3 linked regions of the Homo sapiens genome follow. The protein of the gene in region 1 purifies or fractionates together with the protein of each later gene. This does not show direct contact. Each region holds a gene or a part of one and is shown in the gene's direction. Other genes may lie near its edges. The genes, in order: WAC, WIPF3 and WIPF2.

Region 1 (3,652 bases):
CTGGGCAATATAGCAAGACCCCATCTCTACAAAAATAATTTGAAAATTTGCTGGGGGAGGCCGAGGCAGGCAGATCACTTGAGGCCTAGAGTTTGAAACAAGCCTGGCCAACAGGCAAAACCCGGTCTCTACTAAAAGTACAAAAATTATCTGGGTGTGCTGGCACAGACCTATAATCCCAGCTACTCGGGCGGCTGAGGCATGAGAATCACTTGACCTGGGAAGTGGAGGTGCAGTTGAGCCAAGATCACGGCACTGCACTCCAGCCTGGGCAAGAGAGTGAAACTCTGAAAAACTTTCTTGGGCATGGTGATGTGCACTACTCAGGAGGCTGAGGTAGGAGAATCACCTGCGCCTGGGAATTCAAGGTTGGAGTGAGCCAAGATCACGTCACTCTGCACTTGAGAGTAGGCAACCAGACTAAGACCCTGTCTGGAAAAAAAAAATCCTTTAAGCAGGTAGCTGTTCGTTTTTTGTGTTCCAAAAACTTCTTCAAGTTGTTTTTAAAATAATTGAACATTTGAGCTTTTATGTAGTGCTTATAAAATGTTCTTTATAAGACTTGACTAGAATTGATAGGTAATATTCAGAAGTTAAGCAGGACATTCCAGATTTGTTAGGGAGAATTATTAATCATATCCCCTCACCCCACCAAAAGAAAAACAGCAGTGAGGTGTGACTTAATCACAAAGGACTCCATCTGCCTTTGTGCCTCAATTTAGAGCTTATATTTTAAACTGCTTTTCTCTATGTGGCTTCTGAATATAATACATATCCTGATTGGCAATCATGGACTTCAGTCTACCTCTGTAGAGTAACATCTCTTTGAAAAACTCTCATGTTGAACTTTATATGGGCCATAACTCATTTTCTGATAGCCCAATCACATATTTCTCCATATCATTAAAATCTAAGCATCCATATGTGTATGATGTGGTAGCATACATAATTTACTTTTATTGATATAAAAGTAACAGTAAATCAGAAGAGATAATAATGTATTGGAAAGAAAACTGAGCTGTAAAGGAGAACTAGTTACTTTTTTTTTTTTTGAGACGGAGTCTCGTTCTGTCGCCCAGGCGGGAGTGCTGTGGCGCGATCTCCGCTCACTGCAAGCTCCGCCTTCCGGGTTCACGCCATTCTCCTGCCTCAGCCTCCCGAGTAGCTGGGACTACAGGCGCCCGCCACTGCGCCCGGCTAATTTTTTGTATTTTTAGTAGAGACGGGGTTTCACCGTGGTCTCGATCTCCTGACCTCGTGATCCGCCCGCCTCGGCCTCCCAAAGTGCTGGGATTACAGGCGTGAGCCACCGCGCCCAGCCCTAGTTTGATAGGGAAGTAATTTTATGACCTTGGGCCATTTTCACAAAGAAATGAGATCTAAGTTTCAGAACTTGACTGCCACATTTTACATGTTTCAAGACGATTACCTAGATTTTGGGGGGAGAGATGTGGATTAGATTTGGAGACCATCTCACCAGATTTTGACATTTCAGGTTAGTACTCCAGTAGTTAAGCAAGGACCAGTGTCACAGTCAGCCACACAGCAGCCTGTAACTGCTGACAAGCAGCAAGGTCATGAACCTGTCTCTCCTCGAAGTCTTCAGCGCTCAAGGTAGGTTGATATTGTATATTGAGACCACATTGTTTTATTTAATGATGGTACACTGCATTGTTTGAATATTATATCTGTAAAATAGAACTTAACCTTTAAACTCCATGAATACCCTAAAGTAGGCTTACATGTTGTAAAATTTACAAAGACAAACCTGTATACAAGAGGTAGGTTATTGTCTCTAGTAGTGAAGCCCGGGTTATTTTGAAGAAAGTGGCTCTTTAAAATTTTACACAGTGGAATATGACGGGGCTAAAGATTTGTGATACTTGTACCAGAAAGGCACACGATTTTACAATATTTGTTGGAATTACCTTACTTTTTAACCTCCTCATAGCAGTTTTGGTTTGAGTATATTGATGAAAGCCAAAGTCTGGTATCTAAAACTTGGGCCAATGTTTCCCAACTGGTATATGTCAGGCTTTCCCAATAGCTTAACTGTGACCCTATACGGATGGCTTTTTAGATAGTTCTATACTGCTGTATTGTGTTAGCACTTTTCTTTGTTCATTAACAACACAACTTTAAATGACATTTGTTGAATGAATGGTTTTCATTTGATTGATTTTCCTGTTTTTTATTTCATGCTATGAGGTAGCAAAATAATTCAACTGTTGTTTTTATTGTTGTTTTCTAAACAAGCATTTCAGAACTTACACCTCCAAATGAGAGTTGTTCCCTTCAAAATAATGACCTTGGGAAGCTGTCTACTTACTCCAGCAATGTTGCCATTGCTCTGAACATTTTTGGGAAATTCTTCTTTTAAATTGTTTTTAGAGGCTGCAGTATTATTTTAAATATCCTCAGTGATGAAAACTCTTCATCCTTTGGGAGATTTAGTTTTTGGAAATAACTGAAATTCATTCAGAGCCAAGTCTGGTGAAGCAGGTAGGAGATCAACTTGGGTGATTAAATTTTTTGGTTCTCACCACCATATCCCCAACCCTGGCCCAAACCATTCAGTTTTAAAAGAAGATAAAGAATCTCAGAGTGTTATTTTTTTGGTTTTGTTTTGCCACTGTGCTTGTTCAGTGCTATCCAATAAAATGTCTGTATTTTGCTTCACATTATTTCACCCTCTGATTCAGCAGTTCTGACGTTGAACAAAGGCAATATATATTTTCCCCTTATCTAGATGTGTATGAGCAGTCTTCAGATGTGCATCTACAGCTGTTAAAATGTGACTTTTTTTAGTTATATTATTAGTGTTTGTGGTACACAAAGTTAACAGGTTCTGCTCTCAGATTTGGAGAGTAGTTTACATTTGACTCTGACAGTAGTGTTAAAAGGGTTTTTTCCCCCTAAAGTGTTTTGAGGAATCATATACTTTGGATTATTAATTCTCTTTATTTGACATTAAAATAACAAATTTTTCTTAGGAATTTGGATATCTTTAAGTTAATAAAAGGTATTAACATGCAGTTTCTAGGATAAGGATACCCAGAAACTACTTTTAAACATACTACACATTCAATTCTGTTTTCTAGTAGCCAGAGAAGTCCATCACCTGGTCCCAATCATACTTCTAATAGTAGTAATGCATCAAATGCAACAGTTGTACCACAGAATTCTTCTGCCCGATCCACGTGTTCATTAACGCCTGCACTAGCAGCACACTTCAGTGAAAATCTCATAAAACACGTTCAAGGATGGCCTGCAGATCATGCAGAGAAGCAGGTATGTTATGTACAGCCTAGATTTTACCTTTGGATGATTAGCAAAACAGAATTTAATCAACTTCTAGAGAATCTAATGTGACCACTGAATTCAAGCAATATTTAAAATAATGAATCTCTAACTTTGTAGTCATTTAAAAAATATTTGATATATAAGATAACTTTTCTGGTTTTACAAAATATTTTAACATAATTATAGGCACTGTTGTCAAGTACTCAGCAGTTAGCTCAGTGCTTAATGCCTTATATTTATTTTCTCTACTTCTTAAAACAGCTAAGCAGTGTAGATAGAGTTGAAGTCCTTAAGACCAAATAGTGCATAAGACCTTGATCCCAGGGTCACCCAGTTAACAGTGATGTGG
Region 2 (3,652 bases), on another chromosome or scaffold:
ATTGCAGAACTTCGAGGCAGTAAACAACGAGAGGAACTTTTTCTTATTAGAGAGAGGCAGAGCGAAAAAAGGGTGAGAACTGGCAAAAAGGTGCAAGGCTGTGCGGAGTATAGAGGCCCCTCCTGGGGACGTGCTCCACCTGAGTCTTCCATGAAAACCAAACGCAAATGCTTATCAAGAGCCAATGGTTGTTGTTGAATTTAAAAGAGGAATTGAATTTCAAGCTGGGGCAGATGCAATGAAGGATCTATAGGATGAGAAAGCCAAAACCCTTGGGAATTAGCATAAGTCTTTGGGAAAGGAGGTTTTGAACTTCCAGAGGTCATAGAACTGTGAGGTTCAAGGTCATTGGACCTGGGTTGTCAAGGGCAAATGTCTCCCTCCAGTCTTACCTTATGTATTCAGGGAATCATGAATTTTCTGCTCTCAACACAGAAACAAAGAAAGTCAAATTTCACAAAATGCTGGGAGTGAAGAAAACCTCCCTAGCCAGGAGTGCTGGTTGGTACACCTGAGGGTCCAAATTAGAGCATAAGGGCTGATGGACCTAGCGGGTGTCAGTGAATGAGTTCGTGAGTGTGGCCTTGATTAGGAAGGGCAAAAGACACCCGGGCAGTCCTGGCCCTGGCTGGGATACTAGAGGCCCAAGGCAGATGACAGCACAGGTGGCATGGATAGGAGGGCTGGAGGCCTGACCTGGGCTTGTCATTAATGCTGGCAAGGACTTTGGATCTGGTCCAGTTGGTCCTTCTGGGTGACAGCTGTGGCACCTGAGGCCTCTCAGTGGACACGTGCAGAAAAAGCGGTCTACAGTGCAGCTCACTGCGGGCAGGCTTGAGTGTCCTGAGTGCCGCCTACCTGCGGGGGCTTTCTCCTTCTTTATTGCCGAGCTAACCCAGAATCTCTTTCACTTCCAGGTGGCAAGACAGGGCAGGGCCCTGGCTCCCGCGCGCCCTCTCCCAGGCTTCCCAACAAAACCATCAGCGGCCCGCTTATCCCGCCTGCCTCTCCCAGGCTAGGCAATACCTCCGAGGCGCATGGCGCTGCCAGGACAGCCCCGCCTCGCCCCAACGTGCCTGCCCCGCCCCCTCCCACCCCACCCCCTCCGCCTCCACCCTTACCCCCGCCCCTTCCCTCTTCCTCCCCCATCAAAACTCCGCTTGTGTCCCCACCCGGCCCACTGACCAAAGGGAACCTCCCGGTGGTTGCACCCCCCGTCCCCTGTGCGCCACCACCTCCACCTCCGCCACCTCCCCCAACGCCACCCCCGCTGCCCCCGGCCTCGGTTCTTAGTGACAAGGCAGTGAAGCCTCAGCTGGCTCCCTTGCACCTCCCGCCCATCCCGCCCCCGCTCCCTCTGCTCCCACCTTGTGGGTATCCGGGGCTCAAAGCGGAGCCCGCCAGCCCTGCGCAAGATGCGCAGGAGCCTCCCGCCCCGCCGCCCCCGCTCCCCCCTTATGCTTCTTGCTCCCCGAGGGCTTCTTTGCCCGCGCCCCCTTTGCCAGGAGTTAATAGCAGCAGTGAAACTCCACCCCCGCTACCCCCTAAATCCCCCAGCTTCCAGGCCCCACCGCAGAAGGCCGGTGCGCAGGCCTTGCCCGCCCCGCCTGCCCCTCCGGGCTCCCAGCCGTTCCTGCAGAAGAAGAGGCATGGCCGACCAGGTAAGGAGCGCTGCCTGGCCCAGTGCCCCTGGTGGAGTGCGATAAAATCTCGTCGTTGCACAGGACTTTATTGTTGGAGGTATTCGTTTCAGAGATGGACACCAGGGGTGAGGGAGGCAGAGAGACTTGCCCAAAATCATGCTGCATGTAAGCAAGGGATCCCGGCCTTGATCCCCTGCCCTTACTAGCTCTGTGGCCCTGGGCGACCACTTGGCCTCTCTGTTCTCCCTTCTATTCATCTGTAAAATGGGGATAGATGGCAATAGTTGTTACCTCCTGGGTTTGTTGTTAAGGATTAAGTGAGTTCTTAGGTTTGAGGTGCTTGGAACAGGGCAACAGTGAGCTTGAGAGGGATTATTTATTCTTACTACCAACCTTCCAACTCCCAATCTCCTCCCTGAGGTGGAGGGGGCGTGAGTGTGGCTTGTTTCCAGAACCAGGCCTCCTTTTATATTTGCCCGCGTTTTCCTATCTGGATCCCAGCCAGAATCTTCGCCGGCCCTCAGTAAACTGGATTCCCACTCTGCCTTAGTTTTCGCAGGTTCTCCGGCTGACTCAAGAAAACTGAGGGCCTGTATTTTGAGCCAAATATTAAAAATAATTCCTTCACATATGCAGCACAGGTTATTTGAATTGAGCGTTCATGCCCCATGGCTGATTTCCTTGATCCCGCTAGTAGGAGGCTTCATTCAGTTTTAGTGCCCCTGTGAATGGAAAGTACCTCCACACGTCCACAGATACACCCACATCCACACAGGCAGACACACTCAAACATATGCACACTCATAACACACACATCCACATGCACACCCCCAACACACATATTCCTTTGTCTTTTAGAAAATCTTTTGATGCAGAAAGCTTCTTAAAAGTATTTTCTTGACTTAAAAATAACGCAAGCTTGTTGCAGAGCTAATAGACGGAAATTCAAACTGGCCAGGTACGGATGGCTCACACCGGTAATCCCACTGCTTTGGGAGGCCCATGCATGAAGATGGCTTGAGGTCAGGAGTTCTAGGCCAGCCTGGGTAACACAGCGAAACCCCATCTCTACAGAAAATAAAAATAAAAAATTGGCTGGGCATGGTGGCAGACAACTATAGTCCCAGCTACTTGGGAGGCTAAGGCAGGAGGATCGTTTGAATCTAGGTGTTCAAGGCTGTGGGGAGCTATGATTGTGCCATTGTACTCCAGATTGGATGACAGAGCCAGATGCTGCTGTCTCTGAGTAAATTAAGTAATTCAATCACCCATAATAACATCACCCAGAGATGAAAACTGCCATTTGGATAGGTTTCTTCAATTCTTTTTTCTGAATATATGTACACGTTTACATGGTTAATACCATTTTTCACATACAGTTTTGTGTTCTGTGTTTTATTTAACATTATGTTAAAAACAATTTTATCAAATTGTTAAAATGTCTTTATAAGCATGACAATATATTCCATATTCCTCATGTTAGATATCTAAGTTGATTCCATTTTTTGTTATTATGAGTAATATTTTAAGAAATACTTTTGTAGAAATTTTAATCCACGTTTTTGATATTTTTCTAAAAGTATTGGTGTCTTAAAGGGAATTCCTGGTGCAAAGAGCAAAGATATTTTTAAGCCTCTTGATTACAAGAGGTAAGGTTTTAATCATTCTCTTTTCAATTGACTGGTCACCATGAGGGCCAGCATTTGGGCTGATAAGCCCCTTCTGATATTTGTTATTTTCATCTATTTATGATGTGATGAAAAAGACAAAGCTTTTTTTTTTTTTTTTTTTTTTTTTTTGAGACACAGTTTCACTCTGCCATCTAGGCTGGAGTGCAGTGGCAGGATCTCAGCTCACTGCAACCTTCGCCTCCCAGGTTCAAGTGATTCTTGTGCCTCAACCTTCCGAGTAGCTGAGGTTACAGGCGTGCACCACCACACCTGGCTAATTTTTGTATTTTTAGTAGAGACAGGGTTTCCCCATGTTGGCCAGGCTGGTCTCGAACTCCT
Region 3 (3,652 bases), on another chromosome or scaffold:
CGGGAGGCTGAGGCAGGAGAATCACTTGAACCCAGAGGTTGCAGTGAGCTGAGATTGCACCATTGCACTCCAGCCTAGGCAACAACAGCGAAACTTCGTCTCAAAAAAAAAAAAAAAAAAAAAAAAAAAGAAAAACAAAAAACCCAGAATTATTCAATTCCTTTCCCTGCTGCCATGCAGGTTGCACTAAGGAGCCGAGTGAAGTAGGGATACTGACCAATATCTGTCCAGCTCTGTTGACCCTGTGTTGTCTATGTATTTGTAGAGAACCTAGCTGGTAAGCCAGCCCTGCAAATCCCCAGTTCTCGAGCTGCTGCCCCAAGGCCTCCAGTATCTGCCGCCAGCGGGCGTCCTCAGGATGATACAGACAGCAGCCGGGCCTCACTCCCAGAACTGCCCCGGATGCAGAGACCCTCTTTACCGGACCTCTCTCGGCCTAATACCACCAGCAGTACGGGCATGAAGCACAGCTCCTCTGCCCCTCCCCCACCACCCCCAGGGCGGCGTGCCAACGCACCCCCCACACCTCTGCCTATGCACAGCAGCAAAGCCCCCGCCTACAACAGAGAGAAACCCTTGCCACCGACGCCTGGACAAAGGCTTCACCCTGGTCGAGAGGGACCTCCTGCTCCACCCCCAGTCAAACCACCTCCTTCCCCTGTGAATATCAGAACAGGACCAAGTGGCCAGTCTCTGGCTCCTCCTCCTCCGCCTTACCGCCAGCCTCCTGGGGTCCCCAATGGACCCTCTAGCCCCACTAATGAGTCAGCCCCTGAGCTGCCACAGAGACACAATTCTTTGCATAGGAAGACACCAGGGCCTGTCAGAGGCCTAGCACCTCCTCCACCCACCTCGGCCTCCCCATCTTTACTGAGTAATAGGCCACCTCCCCCAGCCCGAGACCCTCCCAGTCGGGGAGCAGGTAAGTGCTTGGAAGCACCTTTTTCCCTATCATGCTGTGAGTTGATTTTATCTTTCCCCAGAGCACTCCTTGAAGACAGTAATTCGTTTATTCACTCAGTGGGTTTATTGAGTACCTTTTTATGTGTCAGGTCTGTTGGTAGGGAAATAGCAATAAATAGAAAAGACAAAAAAATTTGACAGTCAAACTAGTAAAATATATAAATACATAGTATGCAGTATGCTTTAGAGAATTACAAAGCAGAGGAGAGGAATAAGATATACTGGGGCGGAGGTCGGGATGATGATATCTTTAATTGGAGGAGTGGGGAGAGAGTCAGGACAGTCCTTACTGATACGGTGAAAATTTGACAAAGACCTTAAGAAAGTGACGAGTAAGCTTAGTAGTTATCTAGGAGAACAGCTGTTGCAGGCAGTGGGAACAACAAATGCAGAGGCCATAAGGCAGAAGTATTCTTGAAACATTTTGGGGACAGCAAGGGGGCCATTGTGGCAAGACTACAAAGAGTGAGGGGAGGGAAGAGTGGTAGGACTTGGAGGTTGGAAAGCTGGAGCTGCAGGGGAGAGCGCACTGCAGGATTTTGCAAAGACCTTGGATTTAACTGTGTGAGATGGGAAGCCACTGGAGGGTTTTAAACAGAGAAGTAGTATGATTTGATTCACCTTTTAAAAAGATCATTAACTCCTATGTTGAGAACAGACCGCAGGAGGACAAAGGTGACAAAAGGAGACCAGTTACTGGGCTGTTGCAGTAAACGGCCAGATGGTTAGGACTACTGTGAATTTGTGGGAAGATAGGTGTTCAGTTTGAGACAAGTTTGAGATGCCTGTTAGGTAATCAAGAAGAGACAATGAATTGGTAATTGGCTATCAGACTCCAAAGTTGAGGGGAGAGGTTTCGGCTAGAGAGATACATTTGAATGGTGTTGAAAACCACATGCTGGATGAAGTCACCTAAGGAGTGAATATAGATAAGAAGAGGCCTAGGAGGCTGAGGCAGGAGAATCGCTTGAACTCAGGAGGCAGAGGTTGCAGTGAGCCGAGATCACGCCACTGCACTCCAGCCTGGGCGACAGAGTGACAGTCCATCTCAAAAAAAAAAAAAAAAAAAATGAGGGCTGAGCCCTCGCCCTCCTACATTAGAGGCAAAAGAGATGAAGAATACCCAGCAGAGGAAACAGAAAAGCTTCTAGTGAGGATGGAAGGAGAAAAACCAAGAATGTGATGGAAAAACTCCAAGGTAGAGTAAGTGGTCAGCTGTGCCCAGTGCTGCAGATGGGTCAGGTAAGTTAAAGACCAAGAACTGGCATTGGTCTTAGTATCATGGGACCCTTTTGAGTAGTTTCAGTGGAGTGGTGGAGGGTGAAAGTGAAAGCTTAATTGGAGTGGGTTCAAGAATGCAGGAATAGGAGGAGAGAAATTGGAGATAGCAATATAGAAATCTCTTAAAGAGTTCGCTGTAAAGTCCAGGAGAGAGGGGTGAAGATAAGTGAAGTGATTGTTGGACGAAGATGTGGGGTTGAGAGTTGTTTTTTTCCCATCCCAAGATGGGAGACCTATTTGTATGCTGATGGAATGAGTAGCATGAAACTTAGGAGAGAGGGAAAAAATTGAATCAGAAGAGAGGGAACAGATTGCCTGAATAATGACCTGGAGGAGGCCAGAGAAAAGAGAATGTGATCGATAGATAAAAAGGGTTGGCCTTAGATAGGAACATAGTTCTTCCATAGTAACAAGAGGGGAGGCAGAGCATATAGGCTTAGAAGCAAGTGGGTAGGTGGGTGTAGTGGTAGAAGCATGTGGAAAGTTTATTCTAATTTGCTTCTGTTTTCTCAGTGAAATGGAAAGCAAGAGCATCAGCTGTGATTGAGGCGAGGGAAGGAGAAGGAGAGTTGAGGAGAGAGAAGAGGCATGAAATGGTCATCTGGAGCGTGGGAGTGTGGGTGGACTAGGGAAGTGTGCTCAGATAGGCAACCACGCGAAGGGCCCACTTGAGATTATGGGCCATACATTTCATGTGAGATTAATTAGTCTCATGTGTTCAGTTGTGATTTGCAGGTACAGAAAAAGAGTAGAGCTGTGTTTAACCAGCGTTAGCATGTTTTAGGCATGTGCGACTCTAAGGGAGAGTGGGGCAGGAAGGGAAGGGTGTATGTGAGGGAGTGATTGCAATAATGGAGCCTAAGCTGGGTGAGGAGGGAATTTAGGAACCCTGGAAAAAGAAGAGGTTGTGTAATCTCGTTATAATTAGCATAACTGAAATTTTAGAGTGAGGGAGACCGTGACAGCTCTCTGGGGCCTTATTGGACATGGGAATTTTGGCTCCCATATCGTTGTATCATTAGACTTTGAGACATACCCTCCACAAACAGCTTCTTGGCCTTTATTTATTTATTTGTTTGTTTGTGTTTTGAGACAGAGCCTTGCTCTTTCGCCCAGGCTGGAGTGCAGTGGTGCAATCTCTGCTCATTGCAACCTCTTCCTCCCAGGTTCAAGTGATTGTTGTGTCTCAGCCTCCTGACTAGCTGGAATTACAGGCATGTGCCACCATATCTGGCTAATTTTTGTATTTTTAGTAGAAACGGGTTTTCGCCGTGTTGGCCAGGCTGGTCTCAAACTCCTGACCTCAAGTGAGCCACTGCGCCCAGCCCTTAGCTTTTATTTTAAAGTCAGTTTCTACAGGTATAGAACATTGATTAAGGAGTTATGTCATGGAGTCTGGGCATGATGG

Evidence for each region.
Region 2: the proteins of WAC (region 1) and WIPF3 purify together in Homo sapiens (affinity purification with mass spectrometry, with the first as the bait; one large-scale study listed by BioGRID). This does not show direct contact.
Region 3: the proteins of WAC (region 1) and WIPF2 purify together in Homo sapiens (affinity purification with mass spectrometry, with the first as the bait; one large-scale study listed by BioGRID). This does not show direct contact.

What each region holds. Positions count from the first base shown.
Region 1 is NC_000010.11:28,613,072-28,616,723, forward strand, and holds part of WAC (WW domain-containing adapter protein with coiled-coil), read left to right. Parts: intron 1-1,495; coding exon 1,496-1,614; intron 1,615-3,101; coding exon 3,102-3,291; intron 3,292-3,652.
Region 2 is NC_000007.14:29,882,933-29,886,584, forward strand, and holds part of WIPF3 (WAS/WASL-interacting protein family member 3), read left to right. Parts: intron 1-917; coding exon 918-1,661; intron 1,662-3,652. UniProt on the Homo sapiens protein: May be a regulator of cytoskeletal organization. May have a role in spermatogenesis.
Region 3 is NC_000017.11:40,264,225-40,267,876, forward strand, and holds part of WIPF2 (WAS/WASL-interacting protein family member 2), read left to right. Parts: intron 1-265; coding exon 266-922; intron 923-3,652. UniProt on the Homo sapiens protein: Plays an active role in the formation of cell surface protrusions downstream of activated PDGFB receptors. Plays an important role in actin-microspike formation through cooperation with WASL.